2 linked regions of the Homo sapiens genome follow. The protein of the gene in region 1 interacts with the protein of each later gene in a biochemical or structural test. Each region holds a gene or a part of one and is shown in the gene's direction. Other genes may lie near its edges.

Region 1 (3,752 bases):
AGAATGAATATTGACAAGGAAGAGGTTGCTGTGGCTAATCACTAAAGGGGGCGGGTGAGCCATCATAGGGGTTAGAGTTTCAGGAGACAGAAGAGGAGTCTAGGACTGCCTCAGAAGATCAGTAATGGTGACGAAACAAAGAGTCGAGAACCAAAAAAGTTGTCAGTGGCGGGGGCTGTGCATTCCTCTCTTCCCGACATGCTCTGAGATGTGGAATGCACCAGTCCTTGCTCCCTCACCTTTTCCGTGGAGTGTGTGCATGTGTGAGTGTGTGTGAGTGTGTGTGTGTGTGTGTGTGTGTGTGTGTGTGTGTGTGTGTTGAGGGTCGAACTGGAGACTGGAGGTCAGTGCCTGGGAACAGCCTGGAAGTTCATTGAAGGACCAGCTTCTGACCCTGGGTTTCAGGCTGGGGTGGCACACTCAAGCCTTGCCTCGCCTCTGGTGCCCTGTCTGCTCTGGGCCTGTGCCAGCCTCCCACTTTTCTGGGCCGATTTTCTATTGCAGGCTCCAGCTAGCAAATGAGTGTCTTAATAGTCAACCATTGAACAAATAAAACACCAGAATGTCCCTTATCTGCTAGAGACAAGGCAGAGGGGAGAAACATGTGTTTGGGGAGTGCAAGACACACTGTGCTTTTCTTTTAACTACTTAGCGATTCAGCAGAATAAGAATCACTGTAATAAGGTAATAATAATAATGATCACAGTTAACTTTCTTTACAAATGGTCAGAGAACAACATTGCTCGCACATCAGCTTGAGCAGGTTAAAGAAAGCTGTGGCAATAGCTTTGCTTTTTCTTGATCCTGCATGGAGAAAACTGGAGGAAAGGGGCTATTGGAGTTCATCATATTATTCCTACTATTGGTCAGGCACTTTTTAGTGTTTTAGAATATGACAATATATTAAAAAGAGTCAATTTTTCATTATTTCCATAGAATACACACTAACAGTATTTAAGTGTGTGTGTGTATACATACACACATGGAATAAGGAAAAGCTATTTTAAATAGATCACACGAGAGGCTAATGCCCTTCAGGGACCTGGGGTGTTGAGAGAGAAGTATTGATAATGCAGTCTCCTAAGACTGTTTAAAGATTTCTTCTTCATAGTAAAGGGAGACTTGTTCTTACAGGTAGATGCTGCAGGCACAGTGCTTTGTAAATGAAATGATGAGCCGTTAGCCCCGTGGGACCATCTCTCAGTCTTGGCAATGACCTAGGTCTCTTCAATTTGTTCTTCAAATAAAACTGCTTGAGTTGGGTTCTTCTGTAAGACCTATCAAAGGGATCCAAGGAGCATACTGACTGGAGATTTCGAGGCCCTGCTCATCTTGGGATCCCTGCTTCCTAGTACAGGCCGCTGCTCAGTCCAGGGCCTCGATGCAAGGCTGAACAAATAAATGTCTGCGTGAATGAATGAATGCGACCTGGCCAGACCTGCAGTAGATGTGGCTTCTGCCTCTTCCAGTAGGTGGCGCCACAGGGCTTAGGAGTCAGGAAAGGGGCTTCAGGGTCCGCCTGGTGATGAAAGGTGTAGGGGGAGTTTAGAGCTTGTGACCTGTTGGGGCTGTGCTGCTTCCATCAGGCCCACACCTGCCCCGGCACAGGTAACCCAAAAGACCAGTGTGTCTCCGTGCCGCCGCACACACTGGAGGCCCTCGCGGCATCACTGAGGGACCCAGGTCCCACAGTGACCTCTCCACCCTGTTGTAATGAGAACTCCTTTGGAGCCCACCCAGTCCGTCGCAGGCTCTTCCCACAGACGTCTGTTCCCTTCCAGCACAGACAGCATCCCGCCGAGCCTGGAGGAAGCCTTTTGGGTGAATCGCTGAACTTGGTATGGCCAGATGTTAATTTTCTCCCTGATTTTTCACTGATGGTTTAGTAACCAGAGGGCCCGGTGGTGCCCAAGCCCAGTGGAGCATGGGGTGACCTGAAGCATGGGATCTGGGAACCCAGACCTGTGCAGTCACAGAGCTTGCCAGCCAAAGGCAGGAGGACATTTTCCTAACTTTAATAGGGAAAAGAACACAAAAACAACTGGGTGCACTTCACAGTTGATTTCCGTTTATGAGTCTGCCTGGATCTCCTGCTGGGTAATGGCAGAAAAGCTCAGGAGACCCAGGTTAGGAAGTAACTGAGATTTGTTCTAATTTCCAGTGATGTTTTCCAGCGCCTGGCATTTTCTTTTCTATTCCTTTCTTCACTCGGTTTTCTTAGTTGTGTGGCAAGTTCCATGAGGTCTGAGAAGCCCTTGGCACTGTGCTAAGAAGGGGTGAGTGGCTGGCAGCACTTTCTTCCTTTTACAGTAATTCCTCCCGCCTGATACAGCAGCTGTTTGTTCTGTAGGAGGTACAGGTCAGCCGGCGTCATCTCACCTCTTCCTTGCTGGGACCCTGAAATCAGTGCTGAGCATTCAGATTTAGCAGACAATTTTATTTTCCAATATGGACTACAGAAAGCTGATAGACTGTTTGCGAAACACCTGGAGACTTAACAACAAGCCTAATTAACAAAATAATCACACTGATTTCATCTGTTTCTAGATTCCATCCTCACAGTTGCCTAGGTTAATGTTGGGCACTGTGGAGGAGAACAGAAGATTGGTTTTAAAAAAAAAGGCATGGGGAATTGTTTTGCAACATATCAGGTGCCAAATATTTAGGGACAGAAGTGCTAAACATTCTGATAATGAAATAACACTCTGAGCCATGGCTGTCATTATTAAAATAATTTAGTAAACACCTGTTTACATGTACCTCAAGGTTAGATACCACGTAAAACAAGTAAAAGTGACAGGATCCCTCGGGGAAAATGGAATGGAATGTTTTTCGGTGTCATTTCGAAGCCGGGTGTGTAGACTTAAACTGAACCCACTGCAGAAAAAGCAAAATGGAAGGCTGAAATAATGAATGCCATCATTTGAACTGAAACCTGGGCACTCCAGAAGAGCTCTTCTCTGTGTTTTAATTCCTAGATGGGGTGCTTATTTGCTCAAGACCAGGCTTTCCTGAGCCTGTGTAGACACGGGCCTGGAGCAGGTAGACAGACCCTCTTGGTTTCTATAGTTGAGGCACCCCTGGAGGCAGCTGTTTATCATGGCAGGAAGGGAAGTGGATGCATTCTCTACTGCCCCCTTTCCCCTGCCGAATTCAGGCAGGACCCGCGCAGGTCCCTGGAGAACCTTGCTTCAGTGCTAGCTGTGTGTACCGTGTGGGCAGGACCCCAGCTGGGAGATGGGGAGCCCAGGATGACCCCACAGAAAAGCAGAGCTGTGAGATGGCTGGAGCCTCCGAGAGCTGAGATGCAGAAGGTGAGGGGAAGCCAGAGGAGCCCCAACTCCCTAGGGTGTCTGGGAGGGTTTGGGGAACAAGGTCATCAGGGTAGTCAGTTACTCCTTGTGGAGCTGAACTGAATTTAAGTTGGGATTGTAGGGACTGTAGGAGAGAAGTTTGGGCCTGGAGCTCAGGAGTCGGACCGAGGTTGAAAATAGACCCTTCCTTCCCTGGAAGCCGAGGGAACTAGAGGAAGGGTTCATCTGGCTGAAGCAGAGGGTGAGGAAAGCGGGGGTTAACTGGCAAGAAACCCAAACCTCTCAGCCCCTCCCCTCCCCAAAACCCCACAGAACAGTTCTCTGCAAAACACCTTCACTTTAAAATGGGCTTCTTGTGCTATACCCTGTGTGTATAGGGGGCAAGGGGCTAGGCTCTGGTTCGTTAAAGGGTTTGTCAAACATAGAATAAATGTAATG
Region 2 (3,752 bases), on another chromosome or scaffold:
CTGTAGACCCAGCTACTCAGGAGGCTGAGGCAGGAGAATGGCGTAAACCCGGGAGGCAGAGCTTGCAGTAAGCCGAGATCGCGCCACTGCACTCCAGCCTGGGCAAAAGAGACTCCATCTCAAAAAAAAAAAAAAAAAAAAAAAAAAAGGAAAAAAACAAAACTAACATGGTCATTTGCAGAAGGGGCAGAAAAAGGGTCTCTGCCTAGACCTGGGGAGGTCAGGGAAAGTACTATGGATTGGTAACAACCGGCTGGGCTTCCTACAAGAGAAAAAGACTATACTCACAGAGCCAGACCCCATCTCAAAAAAAAAAAAAAAAAAAAGTCTGGCATGGTGGCTCAAACCTGTAATCCCAGCACCTTGGGAGGCTGAAGCAGGGGGATCACTTGAGCCTAGGAGTTTAACAACATAGTGAGACCTCATCACTACTTTTTTATTTTAAAAAAGAGTTAATAAAAAATAAAATGAAAATAAAAGGGTAAAAGAGCCAGTGGCAAAGTCTTGAGTGGATTAAAGCCAGCTCAGCTAACTTTCACAGCAGACTATATCATTTTAAAGGGGAAAAAGCACATCTCTGTTACATTGCTTAGGAAATATGCTTGGTATATACCCTGGGGCAATCTTATCTATTTGTTAAGTTTCCTTCCAACCCACTAGCCTGTGTGGCCAGGAGAGGGAGACAAAGATCTTAGAGCTCTCTAAATAATAGAACTTAAAACATCAGACAGAGAAGAGTATATTATCTTGGTGATGGTAATTCTCAATGAGGAAAATCCTGGGGAGGGATGTTCTGTGGGAGAATGCCTGCAAGTTTATTTGTTTAGTAGGTTTGATTATTCAGCTGATTGAAATTCCTTTCCCAGATGGGGAGATCTGATTCTCTTTTCATGAAGGAAAGAAAAGTCACATGCTAAAGAGACGGGCATGTCTTTAGAACGGCAGCAGGCAAACCCACTGCTGGGATCCTGGGGCTTTTACTAGTGGCTAGTCACAGGTTTACCTCCTGCCTGTGCTCCTTCTAGCTGTGTTGAAACCCACTTGCCCCATCTATGAACCGTGTTCAGCTCCATTTTCTGAGCCCCCTTATCTTTTTGTCCATACCTGTTGCAACTCTTTGCACGTTGCATTGTCATTGATTTGGTCTCTCCCATTCAACTGAGCCTCTCACAGAGTTCCTGTCACCTCTGCAGTTTCATCGCCTAGCATAGTACCTGGCACTTTAATTCATGCATCAAATGTCCATTGAGTGCCTTCTATGTGTTAGACATCTGCTATACCGAGCTAGACAAAGTTGGCAGACATGACAGCCGAGTGGAAAAGATGAGCCCCTAAACCAATAATCACACACACACACACACACACACACACACACAATATATATATATATATATATATATATATATATGTATGTTATATATATGTATGTTATATATATGTATGTATGTATGTATTAAAAAATCTTGGCCGGGAGCGGTGGCTCACACCTGTAATCTCAGCACTTTGGGAGGCCGAGGCAGGTGGATCACGAGGTCACGAGATCGAGACCATCCTGGCTAACATGGCGAAACCCCGTCTCTACTAAAAATACAAAACATTAGCCAGGCGTAGTGGCGGTTGCCTGTAGTCCCAGCTACTTGGGAGGCTGAGACAGGAGAATCACTTGAACCTGGGAGGCAGAGGTTGCAGTGAGCCAAGATCGCGCCACTGCACTCCAGCCTGGGTGACAGAGCGAGACTCCGTCTCAAAAAAACAAAAAATTTTTGCCTTGCAATCGTTTGCCTTGATGTTATGTCTAAAGCCCCACAATTCTCTAAAAACAGAGATGTATAAAAAAGCACACGTATATAATTCTCTGAAAACAGAATATAAATGAGTCATTGCTCCATTTAACTGACATTTGTTGAGTGCTTGTTATAAATATGGCATTATTCTAGCTGGTGTGAGGTTACCAATTTTTTTTAAACAAAAGTAATATGAATATATACACACACATTTAGTGACTGCATATGTGATGTGTGCTTTTGAAGAAAAAGGAGATGCTGTTGGAGGAAAATGGTGGTGGTGGTGGGAAGTGATTTAGAGTAGAACCAGGGAAGTCTCAGAAGTGACAACTAGCTGGAACCTAAAGAACGAGGAGGTAGCAGGTGGAAGAGAAAGGCAAAGGCATTCTAGGTTGAGAGAATAGGATGTGATAATGTCCCGAGGAAAGAGAGCTTACTGACAGGGAGGGAAGATGTCAGGTGTGACCGAACTGTAGTGAGCAAAGGGTAACTGAGGAGGTGGTCAGGAGCCTGCTCAGCCAATGGGGTAAATACTGTTAAGGAATTAGGACTTGATTTTAAGAACAACCATCGCATCATTTTAAAAGCAAACAAATTGCACTATAATTTCCCTCTTCAAAAAGGCACATTGGCTGTGCACGGTGGCTGACACATGTAATCCCAGCACTTTGGGAGGCTGAGGCGGGTGGATCACCTGAAGTCAGGAGTTCGAGACCAGCCTGGCCAATGTGTTGAAACCCCGTCTCTACCAAAAATACAAAAGTTAGCCAGGCGTGGTGACATGTGCCTGTAATCCCAGCTACTTGGGAGGCTGAGGCATGAGAATTGCTTGAACTGGGGAGGCGGAGGTTTCAGTGAGCAGAGATCGTGCCACCCCACTCCAGCCTGGACGACAGAGCAAGATTCCGTCTTAAGAAAAAAAAAAGGGCACATTGATGGCTATTCAAGGCAGAGAGGGGCACATATAACCCCAAAGAGATGGCTCTGGGGAGGGTTGTGTTGTATTACATTGTTGGCATTGTATTATCCAGGTGAGAGATGCTGGAGGCTGGGCGGTGCCAGTGGTGATGAAAAGGAGAGATGGATTTGAAACATAGGAATAATCTCTCAGATTGTTTCTTGGCATCACTTACCTAAAATGCTTCTTTCAAATATAGATGTACACACCCCTCCCTTTAGGATACTTGGGACAATGTGCCACTTAGACATAGGGGATGGAACAAATTGGAGAGTCTGTCAATGCCCCCTGCAATCTTTTCTCTTGATGTTATCTCATAATGCCCCACAATTCTCTAAAAACAGAGAACATAAATGAGTCATTGGTCCATTCCACTGACGTTTGTTGAGTGCTTGTTATGAATGTGGCATTATTCTAGCTCTTGTAAGGTTACCAATTTTTTAAAAAACAAAAGTAATGCAAGACTGCTGATGAAAATTTGGAATATGAGAAAAGCATAAAGAAGAAAATACATATCTTTAAGCACACCACCCACTGTTAACATTCTGATCTATGTACTTCTAATATTTTCTCCATTTTCATATGTACACATACATTTATTTACATGCATATATAAATATCAAAGTGTATATATATAATTTTCTCTGCCATTTAAATTTTTACTGTGTAACAATCATGGATTGTAAAAAAAGTGAATAAAATGTACGCAGTCAGTTTAAAGACTAACAAAATATGCATTAAATCACCAGCCAGGTTAAGAAGAAATACTATTACTTATACCCTGGCATCTCCCTCCCACCTTTACATAGCCAAATCCAGAAAAGATCCGTTTTCCTAACCTTGTTCGCCTATTTTATTATTTAAATTGCAGCAGGAGGGAAGCATGTCTACTTTATCCAATTTCACACAGACGCTGGAAGACGTCTTCCGAAGGATTTTTATTACTTATATGGACAATTGGCGCCAGAACACAACAGCTGAGCAAGAGGCCCTCCAAGCCAAAGTTGATG

What was found. The genes of interacting proteins can lie anywhere in the genome.
Region 2: the proteins of CACNA1C (region 1) and KCNE2 form a complex in vitro, tested with the Homo sapiens proteins (one study listed by BioGRID).

What each region holds. Positions count from the first base shown.
Region 1 is NC_000012.12:2,055,920-2,059,671, forward strand, and holds part of CACNA1C (voltage-dependent L-type calcium channel subunit alpha-1C), read left to right. Parts: intron 1-3,752. UniProt on the Homo sapiens protein: Pore-forming, alpha-1C subunit of the voltage-gated calcium channel that gives rise to L-type calcium currents. Mediates influx of calcium ions into the cytoplasm, and thereby triggers calcium release from the sarcoplasm.
Region 2 is NC_000021.9:34,366,854-34,370,605, forward strand, and holds part of KCNE2 (potassium voltage-gated channel subfamily E member 2), read left to right. Parts: intron 1-3,317; exon of another isoform or gene 3,318-3,613; 5' UTR 3,614-3,625; coding exon 3,626-3,752. UniProt on the Homo sapiens protein: Ancillary protein that functions as a regulatory subunit of the voltage-gated potassium (Kv) channel complex composed of pore-forming and potassium-conducting alpha subunits and of regulatory beta subunits.